Linked DNA regions of Homo sapiens: region 1 is linked to region 2. Evidence: fine-mapped expression QTL. A gene starts in region 2. The other region holds a variant in brackets. All regions are shown on one strand. Distances are between the middles of the regions. Region 1 holds the start of LOC107986009 (a long non-coding RNA gene). Region 2 holds the start of LMCD1-AS1 (LMCD1 antisense RNA 1).

Region 1 (5,534 bases), 110 kb after region 2:
CTAATCCCATTCATAAGAGCTCCACTCTAGTGACTTAATCACCTCCGACAGGCCCCACGTCCTAATGCCATCACCTTGGAGACATGACTGCTGGGAGGACACTTTCAGACCCTAGCAGGCAGTTAGTAGCTGGTGTGGTTTAATAGGCTGTGTTCCTCCATAAGAGAAAGATGGTTCAAAAAAGGCTTTAATGCCTTATCCTTTAGTAAGAATTCACGGTTGTTAGGAGAAAGGATGTAGGATTTTCAGACCAAACGTTTTGAATTTCAATTACGCCTTTCATACTTCCTCTTTTGGAAACGTGGAACAAGACATTTTGCTTTTTTTATATCCATCTGTTTCAACATTTTTCAAATGAGAAAAGGAATCCCAGCTTTCCTCCACATCTGGGGTGGGGATTAAATGAGGGAGAAAGAACTTTGTAATAACAACAAAAATATAAAGTACCCCTTAATGAGCACTTACTTTGTGCGAGGAATTATTTCATTTATGCATCTAAGTCCCACAATGACTCCACACTGTAAAAGTAACAGTAATAATGACAATATGTGACATTGGACTTAGCCGGGCCTGGTGGCACACACCTGTCATCCCAGCTACTTGGGAGGCTGAGGCAGGAGGATTGCTTGAGTCCAGGAGTTTGAGGCTACAGTGAGCCCTGTCGTGCCATTGCACTACAGCCTGGACAAAAGTGAAATCCTATCTCAAAAAAATGAATTAGTAGTAATAATAATTATTGAGTATTTAGTATGTGATATGGTTTTTGGCTGTGTCCCCACCCAAATCTCACCTTGAATAGTAATAGTCCCTACATGTCAAGGGTGGGGTCAGGTGGAGATAATTGAAACATGAGGGCAGCTTCCCCACACTCTTTTTCGTGGTAGTGAATAAGTCTCACGAGATCTGATGGTTTTATAAATGGGAGTTCCCCTAACACATGCCCTCTTACCTGCTGCCATGTAAGACATGTCTTGCTTCCCCTTTGCCTTCTGCCATGATTGTGAGGCCTCCCCAGCCATGTGGAACTGTGAGTTAATTAAACCTCTTTCCTTTATAAATTACGCAGTCTCCGGTATGTCTTTACTAGCCGAGTGAGAACAGATTAATACAGTATGTGCCGGGCTGTGTTCTAAGAGCCTTCCGTTAATTACGTATCTCTAGTCCTCACAACAGGTCTGGGAGGAGTAGGTACTCTTAATACGATCATTTTGCAGATGAGCAGACTAAGTTCGCAGAGATTGATGAGATGGTCTCAGGGCTAGGGTGGGGCTTAGCTAAGATTTATTCAAAGGCAAAAGTTGTTTTACAATTAATCATATACATGTTGTGTGTGTGTATGTACTACATACACCATATCTTGCATAATATGCATTGTAAGTAATTCTAGTCGCACAATGACTGGTAGAGGGGAGGCTCACCCAGGGCTCTACTGGTCACCTTGCCCTGAGCAATGATCACATGCAGGAAGCTGTGGATAGGACCCTTACTTGCCTTCCAAACTGAAGATGTTTCTACTCTCAGGTGTGGCTAAAGAGGTTACCTGGGACCAGTATGAGGAAACTGCCCCCTTGATTCCATTATCTCCACCTGGCCCCACACTTGACACATGGGGATTATTATAATTCAAGGTGAGATATGGGTGGGGACAGAGCCAAACCATATCACATACCAAGTACTCAGTAATTGTTATTACTATTAATTCTTTTTTTTTTTTGAGATAAGGTTTCACTCTGTTGTCCAGGCGGAAGTGCAATGGCACAATTACCAATTACTTGCAAAGAGGCCAAGCTGGCCTCGGCAACAAAGCAACCTGGGCCCACAACTCCTACTGAAGAAGAACAACCCACTTTCACCCAGCAGCTGCTGTGCTGGGACCTCCCAGCTGCAGCCCCAGGCGGCCAAGCTGCTCTCCTTACCCAGCCTCCTCTGACAGTTCCTGATGGAGAAAAGGGGAGCCTGCTGTTGCTGTCAGCTGGTCTGCACATTTGTGCCCTGGGCACCGCTGAGGATAACACACTCACCAGCACACCATGTTGACCGGCACGTTGCATTTCCACCCAGAATTTAAAACCAGGCAGTGGCCTGGCTCTGCACTTCCCGACTCTGTGACTTTGGGCAAGCGATTGAAACCCTCTGGACTTCCGTCTCCTCATCTGTAAAACGGGGATAAAAACAGCCCCTCCTTTATAAGCTTGTTGTGAAGACTTAGGGTCTGACCCTTGAAAAATGGTTAGAATAGTGCCTGTAACTTGGGAAAAGCTTAATAAATGTTTGCCATTGTTAGTACCTGAAGGGATCCCTTAAAAAAGCAAGGAAGTGGGGGAGCAGCCAAGATGGCCGAATAGGAACAGCTCCGGTCTACAGCTCCCAGCGTGAGCGATGCAGAAGACGGGTGATTTCTGCATTTCCATCTGAGGTACCGGGTTCATCTCACTAGGGAGTGCCAGACAGTGGGCGCAGGTCAGTGGGTGCGCGCACCGTGCGCGAGCCGAAGCAGGGCGAGGCATTGCCTCACTCGGGAAGCACAAGGGGTCAGGGAGTTCCCTTTCC[T/G]AGTCAAAGAAAGGGGTGACGGATGGCACCTGGAAAATCGGGTCACTCCCACCCTAATACTGCGCTTTTCCGACGGGCTTAAAAAACGGTGCACCACCCACCTGGCTTGGAGGGTCCTACGCCCATGGAGTCTCGCTGATTGCTAGCACAGCAGTCTGAGATCAAACTGCAAGGCGGCAGCGAGGCTGGGGGAGGGGCGCCCGCCATTGCCCAGGCTTGATTAGGTAAACAAAGCAGCCGGGAAGCTCCAACTGGGTGGAGCCCACCACAGCTCAAGGAGGCCTGCCTGCCTCTGTAGGCTCCACCTCTGGGAGCAGGGCACAGACAAACAAAAAGACAGCAGTAACCTCTGCAGACTTAAATGTCCCTGTCTGACAGCTTTGAAGAGAGCAGTGGTTCTCCCAGCACGCAGCTAGAGATCTGAGAACGGGCAGACTGCCTCCTCAAGTGACCCCTGACCCCCGAGCAGCCTAACTGGGAGGCACCTGCCAACAGGGGCACACTGACACCTCACACGGCAGGGTACTCCAACAGACCTGCAGCTGAGGGTCCTGTCTGTTAGAAGGAAAGCTAACAACCAGAAAGGACATCCACACCAAAAACCCATCTGTACATCACCATCATCAAAGACCAAAAGTAGATAAAACCACAAAGATGGGGAAAAAACAGAACAGAAGAACTGGAAACTCTAAAAAGCAGAGCGCCTCTCCTCCTCCAAAGGAACGCAGTTCCTCACCAGCAACGGAACAAAGCTGGAGGGGGAATGACTTTGACGAGCTGAGAGAAGAAGGCTTCAGATGATCAAATTACTCTGAGCTACGGGAGGACATTCAAACCAAAGGCAAAGAAGTTGAAAACTTTGAAAAAAATTTAGAAGAATGTATAACTAGAATAACCAATACGGAGAAGTGCTTAAAGGAGCTGATGGAGCTGAAAACCAAGGCTCGAGAACTACGTGAAGAATGCAGTAGCCTCAGGAGCCGATGCCATCAACTGGAAGAAAGGGTATCAGCAATGGAAGATGAAATGAATGAAATGAAGTGAGAAGGGAAGTTTAGAGAAAAAAGAATAAAAAGAAATAAGCAAAGCCTCCAAGAAATATGGGACTATGTGAAAAGACCAAATCTACGTCTCATTGGTGTACCTGAAAGTGACGGGGAGAATGGAACTAAGTTGGAAAACACTCTGCAGGATATCATCCAGAACTTCCCCAATCTAGCAAGGCAGGCCAATGTTCAGATTCAGGAAATACAGAGAATGCCACAAAGATACTCCTCGAGAAGAGCAACTCCAAGACACATAATTGTCAGATTCACCAAAGTTGAAATGAAGGAAAAAATGTTAAGGGCAGCCAGAGAGAAAGGTCGGATTACCCTCAAAGGGAAGCCCATCAGACTAACAGCAGATCTCTTGGCAGAAACCCTACAGGCCAGAAGAGAGTGGGGGCCAATATTCAACGTTCTTAAAGAAAAGAATTTTCAACCCAGAATTTCATATCCAGCCAAACTAAGCTTCATAAGTGAAGGAGAAATAAAATACAGACAAGCAAATGCTGAGAGATTTTGTCACCACCAGGCCTGCCCTAAAAGAGCTCCTGAAGGAAGTGCTAAACATGGAAAGGAACAACCAGTACCAGCCACTGCAAAATCATGCCAAAATGTAAAGACTATCGAGACTAGGAAGAAACTGCATCAACTAACGAGCAAAATAACCAGCTAACATCATCATGACAGGACCAAATTCACACATAACAATATTAACTTTAAATGTAAATGGACTAAATGCTCCAATTAAAAGACACAGACTGGCAAATTGGATAAAGAGTCAAGACCCATCACTGTGTTGTATTCAGGAAACCCATCTCACGTGCAGAGACACACATAGGCTCAAAATAAAAGGATGGAGGAAAATCTACCAAGCAAATGGAAAACAAAAAATGGCAGGGGTTGCAATCCTAGTCTCTGATAAAACAGACTTTAAACCAACAAAGATCAAAAGAGACAAAGAAGGCCATTACATAATGGTAAAGGGATCAATTCAACAAGAAGAGCTAACTATCCTAAATATATATGCACCCAACACAGGAGCATCCAGATTCATAAAGCAAGTCCTGAGTGACCTACAAAGATACTTAGACTCCCACACATTAATAATGGGAGACTTTAACACCCCACTGTCAACATTAGACAGATCAATGAGACAGAAAGTCAACAAGGATACCCAGGTATTGAACTCAGCTCTGCACCAAGTGGACCTAATAGACATCTACAGAACTCTCCACCCCAAATCAACAGAATATACATTTTTTTCAGCACCACACCACACCTATTCCAAAATTGACCACATACTTGGAAGTAAAGCTCTCCTCAGCAAATGTAAAAGAACAGAAATTATAACAAACTATCTCTCAGACCACAGTGCAATCAAACTAGAACTCAGGATTAAGAATCTCACTCAAAACCACTCAACTACATGGAAACTGAACAACCTGCTCCTGAATGACTACTGGGTACATAACGAAATGAAGGCAGAAATAAAGATGTTCTTTGAAACCAACGAGAACAAAGACACAACATACCAGAATCTCTGGGATGCATTCAAAGCAGTGTGTAGAGGGAAATTTATAGCACTAAATGCCCACAAGAGAAAGCAGGAAAGATCCAAAATTGACACCCTAACATCACAATTAAAAGAACTAGAAAAGCAAGAGCAAACACATTCAAAAGCTAGCAGAAGGCAAGAAATAACTAAAATCAGAGCAGAACTGAAGGAAATAGAGACACAAAAAACCCTTCAAAAAATTAATGAATCCAGGAGCTGGTTTTTTGAAAGGATCAACAAAATTGATAGACCACTAGCAAGACTAATAAAGAAAAAAGAGAGAAGAATCAAATAGATGCAATAAAAAATGATAAAGGGGATATCACCACGGATCCCACAGAAATACAAACTACCATCAGGGAATACTACAAACACCTCTACGC
Region 2 (5,000 bases):
AAATGACTTCACTGGGCAGGCTTTTGCCTCGTTTGAAAGGGATAAAGCTTGCCTTTGTTATATTCCTGGCTTCTGTTCCCACAGCTCTAAAATATAAAGGCTTCTGGCATGACATCCTGATTTAGCACTATTGTTCCTAGGATTTGCTACTGAAAGGACTATTCATGTGGAAACCTCCTCTCCCAGGCCAGGCTTCTGTTGGCCACTGTTTATTTACATACTGGTTTAACATGCAGCCTACCTTGGAAGTTTGGACAAACCAGGCCAGGTGTGCCATTGCACCATCTCTCCCTATTCTTACTTTGCCTGCTTACTGCATGGAGGTAGAGAGTAGAAGAAGGTTACCAGAGGTTGGGAAATGGTGGGCTGGGGTGTGAGGGGATGAACAGAGGTTGGTTAATGCGAACAAACACTGTCTGATAGCAAGAAAAAGTCTAGCATTCAACAGCACAGTAGGGTGACTATAGTCAACAACAGTGAATTGTATACTTCAAAATAGCTAAAAGAGGCTAGGTGCGGTGGCTCACTCCTGTAATTCCAGCACTTTGGGATGCCAAGGTAGGAGGATCACTTGAGGTCAGGAGTTCAAGACCAGCCTGGCCAATATGGTGAAACTCTGTCTCTACTAAAAATACAAAAATGAGCCAGGTATGGTGGCTCATGCCTGTAGTCCCAGCTTCTTGGGAAGCCGAGGTGGGAGACTCACTTGAACCTGGGAGGCAGAGGTCACAGTGAGCCGAGATCGCGCCACTGCATTCCAGCCTGGGCAACAGCGCGAGACTCTGTCTCAAAAAAAAAAAAAAAAAAAAAAGAAAAGCTAAAAGTGATTTGACATGTTCCCAGTACAAAGAAATTATAAATGTTCAAGGTGATGGAAATCCTAAACACCCTGATTTGATCATTACACATTGTAAGCATATATCAAAATACCACATGTACAATCATGATGTATCAATAAAAAAAATAAAAGCCAGAACCCAACCTCTATTCATTTGCCAAATGTGTACTGTGCCTATACCACATGCTAGGTGTTTGAGGACATAGCTGGGAGCAAACAAGGCAAAAATCAATTATAGCAGAAATCTGTGAAAAAAGAAATAGGTCATCCCTCATCTTGGAAAAGATAAGCCACAAAAAGCCCTTTCCAGGAATATGTAATAAAAAGTCACAATTCAGGATCCCTGGCTGAGATTTGGGATGACTGGAGATGATGATAAGAACTAAATTGGAGGAGGCTTTCAAGAGGAAAAAGCCTCCAGCAAGAGACAGCCCCACAGTGGGAACTGCAGCCTCCCCTTCTCACCAAATCCCTCCCGAATGGTGTACTTCGGGACCACTCTTCAGTCTCTGTGCAACCGAGTTTTATTTTAGCCCACGGGACCCTGGTTTTTCTGGCAGGGGGCACTGCAAAGACGGGTTACAGGCCGAACACCTCACAACAGAGACAGCAGTATTCTCTCTAGGATAAAAAGGGCTTGTGTTTAATCCTCTGTCAGGGCAGGGGGGAAATGCCTCTGGAATCCAAGTCTGTGGAACCGGCTCAGCAGAGAGATGTGGCTTTATAGGCAAACAACGTGGCATAGAGAGAGGAACCTGGCCAATTCTGTCTTATAAGAGTAGTTATGTTATGCGTTGCAAGGACTCCACATTCCATGGATTTGTGAACTCAGATGGAATCTTGTTTGTCCAGGCCTGCATGACCCCATTTATCTAAAAATTACTAACTTCCTAGTTTATAGTTTACAATCCTGTGCCCGCCGCCTCCCTCCCCCCCCCCGCCACGCCCCCATGAGCTTTCTCTCTATTACTCTCAGTCTCTCAGGTTAAAGCCTTGCTCAGTAATTCAGCTGTGGACCAGTTATTCTGATTATTTCCTCATCTATCGTCTTACAGTCATAATAATAATAATATCTGAGATAATATGAGCATACAACAAGACAGTATGTCCACAGGAGCATCTCTAAGATCAGGACAGTGATTTCTTGCTCATGGAATAAGAAGGATTTATGTTAAAGCAAGTTATAAGAAAGCAGTTTAATACTTTACGAACGTTAAGTTTAAAAAAATCATAACTCGCTGGAATCTTTTCTCCTCTCTGGATATTGGAGAACTCGCCCAGGTTTGGGAAACGTTAGCCAGCTCCTGCAAAACACCTCCTCCCTCAGCCCTCCCCGCGCCCCCTACGACCAGGCAGAAAGGGTGGGAAGGGGAGCACAGCTCAGCATTTATTTCTGGATCCAGCTCACTAAAAATACCTCGGCTCTCCTGTTTGATCACTCTCCCTTTTGACCTGAATGGATCGCGGGAGCCGCGCCGCCCGCCCCACCTTCGGCCCGTTGCCCTTTAAAGGAAAAGGGCGTGGGGACGGATTCCTGCCGCTCGAGGGATAGAAGGGAGCTGGGTAGTCAGGGGCCGCGGCCATGCTGACGTCAGGGCAGCCGGCGCTCAGCTCCGCTCGCTGCCACAGTGCAGAGACCTCCCTGAGGGAGGGGGACAGCCTCGCGCTGGGATTGGCTGGCCTCGCGCGAGCGCCGGCGCGGAGTGGCTGGCGAGGTTTTAGAGGGAGTCCCGCTCTCCAATTAAAGCGGCCCAGCTGCGCCTGGCTGCGCACAGAGCTCCCTCCCAGGCCCGCGAACTTGGCCATTCAGCCGCCGCTGTCCCCGCTGCGCGCCCTCGCGCCTCTGCCTGAGAAGCCAGGCGCTGTTCCCCCACCCCAGAAGAGGATGGCAAAGGTGGCTAAGGACCTCAACCCAGGAGTTAAAAAGGTGAGTGGAAAGCTGTTTGTATTTACCCAGATTCTTACTTTTTCTTGTTCCCCTTCCCATCTGTTCGCGGAAACTTCCCAAAAGGTAATGAGAAGGGAACTCTTTAAATTCCAAAACTGCATGGAAAACAAATAGTTGGGAATACATGTTTGAGCTAACAGGCACACACACCCCAAACCCAATGTTGTGTAAAATATTTGCAAAGGGTCTTATGTCTTTGGTGATGCTAGTTAAAGTTTAATTAAGGTTTTACATATATATACAATATATATAAAATGTATATAAAATATATATATAAAATATATATAATATATATTATATATAATATATAAAATATATATTATATATAATATATATTATATATAAAATATATAATATATATTATATAAAATATATATAATATATATTATATATAAAATATATATAATATATAATATATATATATGAAATCTTATGGTCTGTAAAGGAAAAACCCCTAGCTTCCTCACTCCCTGTCCTCAGGTGGCTGAAGTAAGGGTTGAGAGCATGTAATATTTACTCACAGTCTCCCTTTTGCTATTATCCCAGTGTTTTGTGTGTTTCCCCCAATACACACACACACACACACACACACACACACACACACACGCACGCAGTTTCTTTAGTTGGTGATGTTGGCAGTGGCAGCAGTTCCAGCATAAGGGAACTGATTTCTGTCCCCAGGGTCTGCACGTTTCCCTTACAAGAAGGGCTGGCCCGGAGCCCAGAAGGTCATGGGTAAACTCCTGCACAGGAGCCTGCGGCTGTGCCTATAGCTCCAATACCACTTGTTGCCTACCTGAATGCAGCTGGGAGAAGGCACAGGCTGGAGACTTAGAGAACATGTGAACGGGAAGGGAACAGAGAGACAACCTAGGCTTTACAGATCGGGAAACTGAGGCCCGGGGTCACAGAGAGTTGGTTCTAACAGGCAGCTGACTGTAAGGCAAGCCCTAGGCATCCAGACTCAGTCCCTGCCACTTTTTAACTGCACATGATTCACCAGGTCACTTTTCTGAGCCTCAGTTTCCTTGTCTCTGATGTGGGGAGGATAGGCCTAACCTCCCTCATGGCAGTGGTAGCAGGGATACTGACACTGTGAGTTAATTTCCCAAAGCAGTCATTGTTAAACTCTGATTTCACAGGGTTTAGTCTTGAAGGGCAAAGTCTTCCTTAAATATCTGCCATTAACCTGCAGGGTAGAATGAGAGGGGGAAAAACAAAAGACGTGAGAATCAAACTAAAGACACAAACAGCCACTCAGAGGCACAGCATGCACTGTCTAATTTGTAGCTGTGCTCTTCTGTAGACCACCTGCCCAGACCCTGTCACAGAGTCCAGTGGATCCTTCTAAATGTGGGTACCAAGTCACATTGAATCTGGGCATTTGTCTGGAATGTATCATGCCTCACTGCATTTGCCAAGCTATTTGCAGAATCAAGTCATTTCCCCTCCTACAGAAATTACCATAACATTTTAGACTCTTAGAAGATACCTATTAATTGCTACCTAGTAGTGAGTTATGCATGCAATGCTCTTATTTCTCTATACATTTTTCTGGACTCCTTGAGGGCAAACCTGTCTTGTTCATCCCTGTTTGAACATAGCACACCATGCCACACAGCAGGACTCAAAAACCTGTGGGTGACTCATGAGAATATCTGTCCAGCTAAGACCACACTGTTTGCATAGGCTTCATTTTATGCATTATTTTTTAACTTGTAGCATTGATATTTGTGTGTCTGAACTGCCTCCCCAAGTTCAGACACAGAATAGTTCACGGCTAAAGGTGGCAGAGTTCCATTGTCCTCTGGAAAGTGAAATGATTCTGAGTATTTTTAATATAAGCTGGTTGATAGTTACTGTATGAGGTGAGATGAGGTATATGGAGACTCCTCCTCCTCACCACAGTCCTGTGTTGCCACTTGGAGGAAGCCTTGTTTTTATTTTCCTTTGCATAGGGGAGTGTGATTATCCTGATTAGAGGTGGAACATGTTCTCCTTCTTGTCACCCCCTAGTGCCAACTTCCTTGGCCTGCAAAGGGTTTGTTTTCCATTTAGATCCAATTACAGGCTTAGAGAAAGAATGTGGTGGGTAGAGATGAAAGGGCAGATTTTTTTTATCTCTTGGGACTGCGACAATCAGGAGGAAGATCACCATTTTGTAGGTTAACCAATGCCTTCAACTCAAAATGTGGAGGGGAGGGAGGAGAGCCG

Evidence for each region. PIP is the estimated chance that this variant, and not a neighbour inherited with it, causes the effect. A credible set is the group of variants that fine-mapping cannot tell apart.
Region 1: its variant is the best candidate, but not a certain one, in a credible set for the expression of LMCD1-AS1 in nasal epithelium (TOPMed, PIP 0.78).

What each region holds. Positions count from the first base shown.
Region 1 is chr3:8,609,207-8,614,740 of GRCh38, forward strand. LOC107986009 (a long non-coding RNA gene) reads right to left here and starts at 2,737. Exons shown (of 5, transcript XR_001740420.3): 1 at 2,652-2,737; 2 at 2,022-2,153; 3 at 1-386. RefSeq lists enhancers at 1,472-2,353, 2,354-3,234. The variant T/G (reference allele first, on the strand shown) is at 2,551.
Region 2 is chr3:8,499,216-8,504,215 of GRCh38, forward strand. It overlaps LMCD1-AS1 (LMCD1 antisense RNA 1), which reads right to left and starts at 2,443. Exons shown (of 4, transcript NR_033378.1): 1 at 2,256-2,443. It overlaps LMCD1 (LIM and cysteine rich domains 1), which reads left to right and starts at 2,608. Exons shown (of 6, transcript NM_014583.4): 1 at 2,608-2,765. The coding sequence starts at 2,724. RefSeq lists enhancers at 1-195, 196-1,129.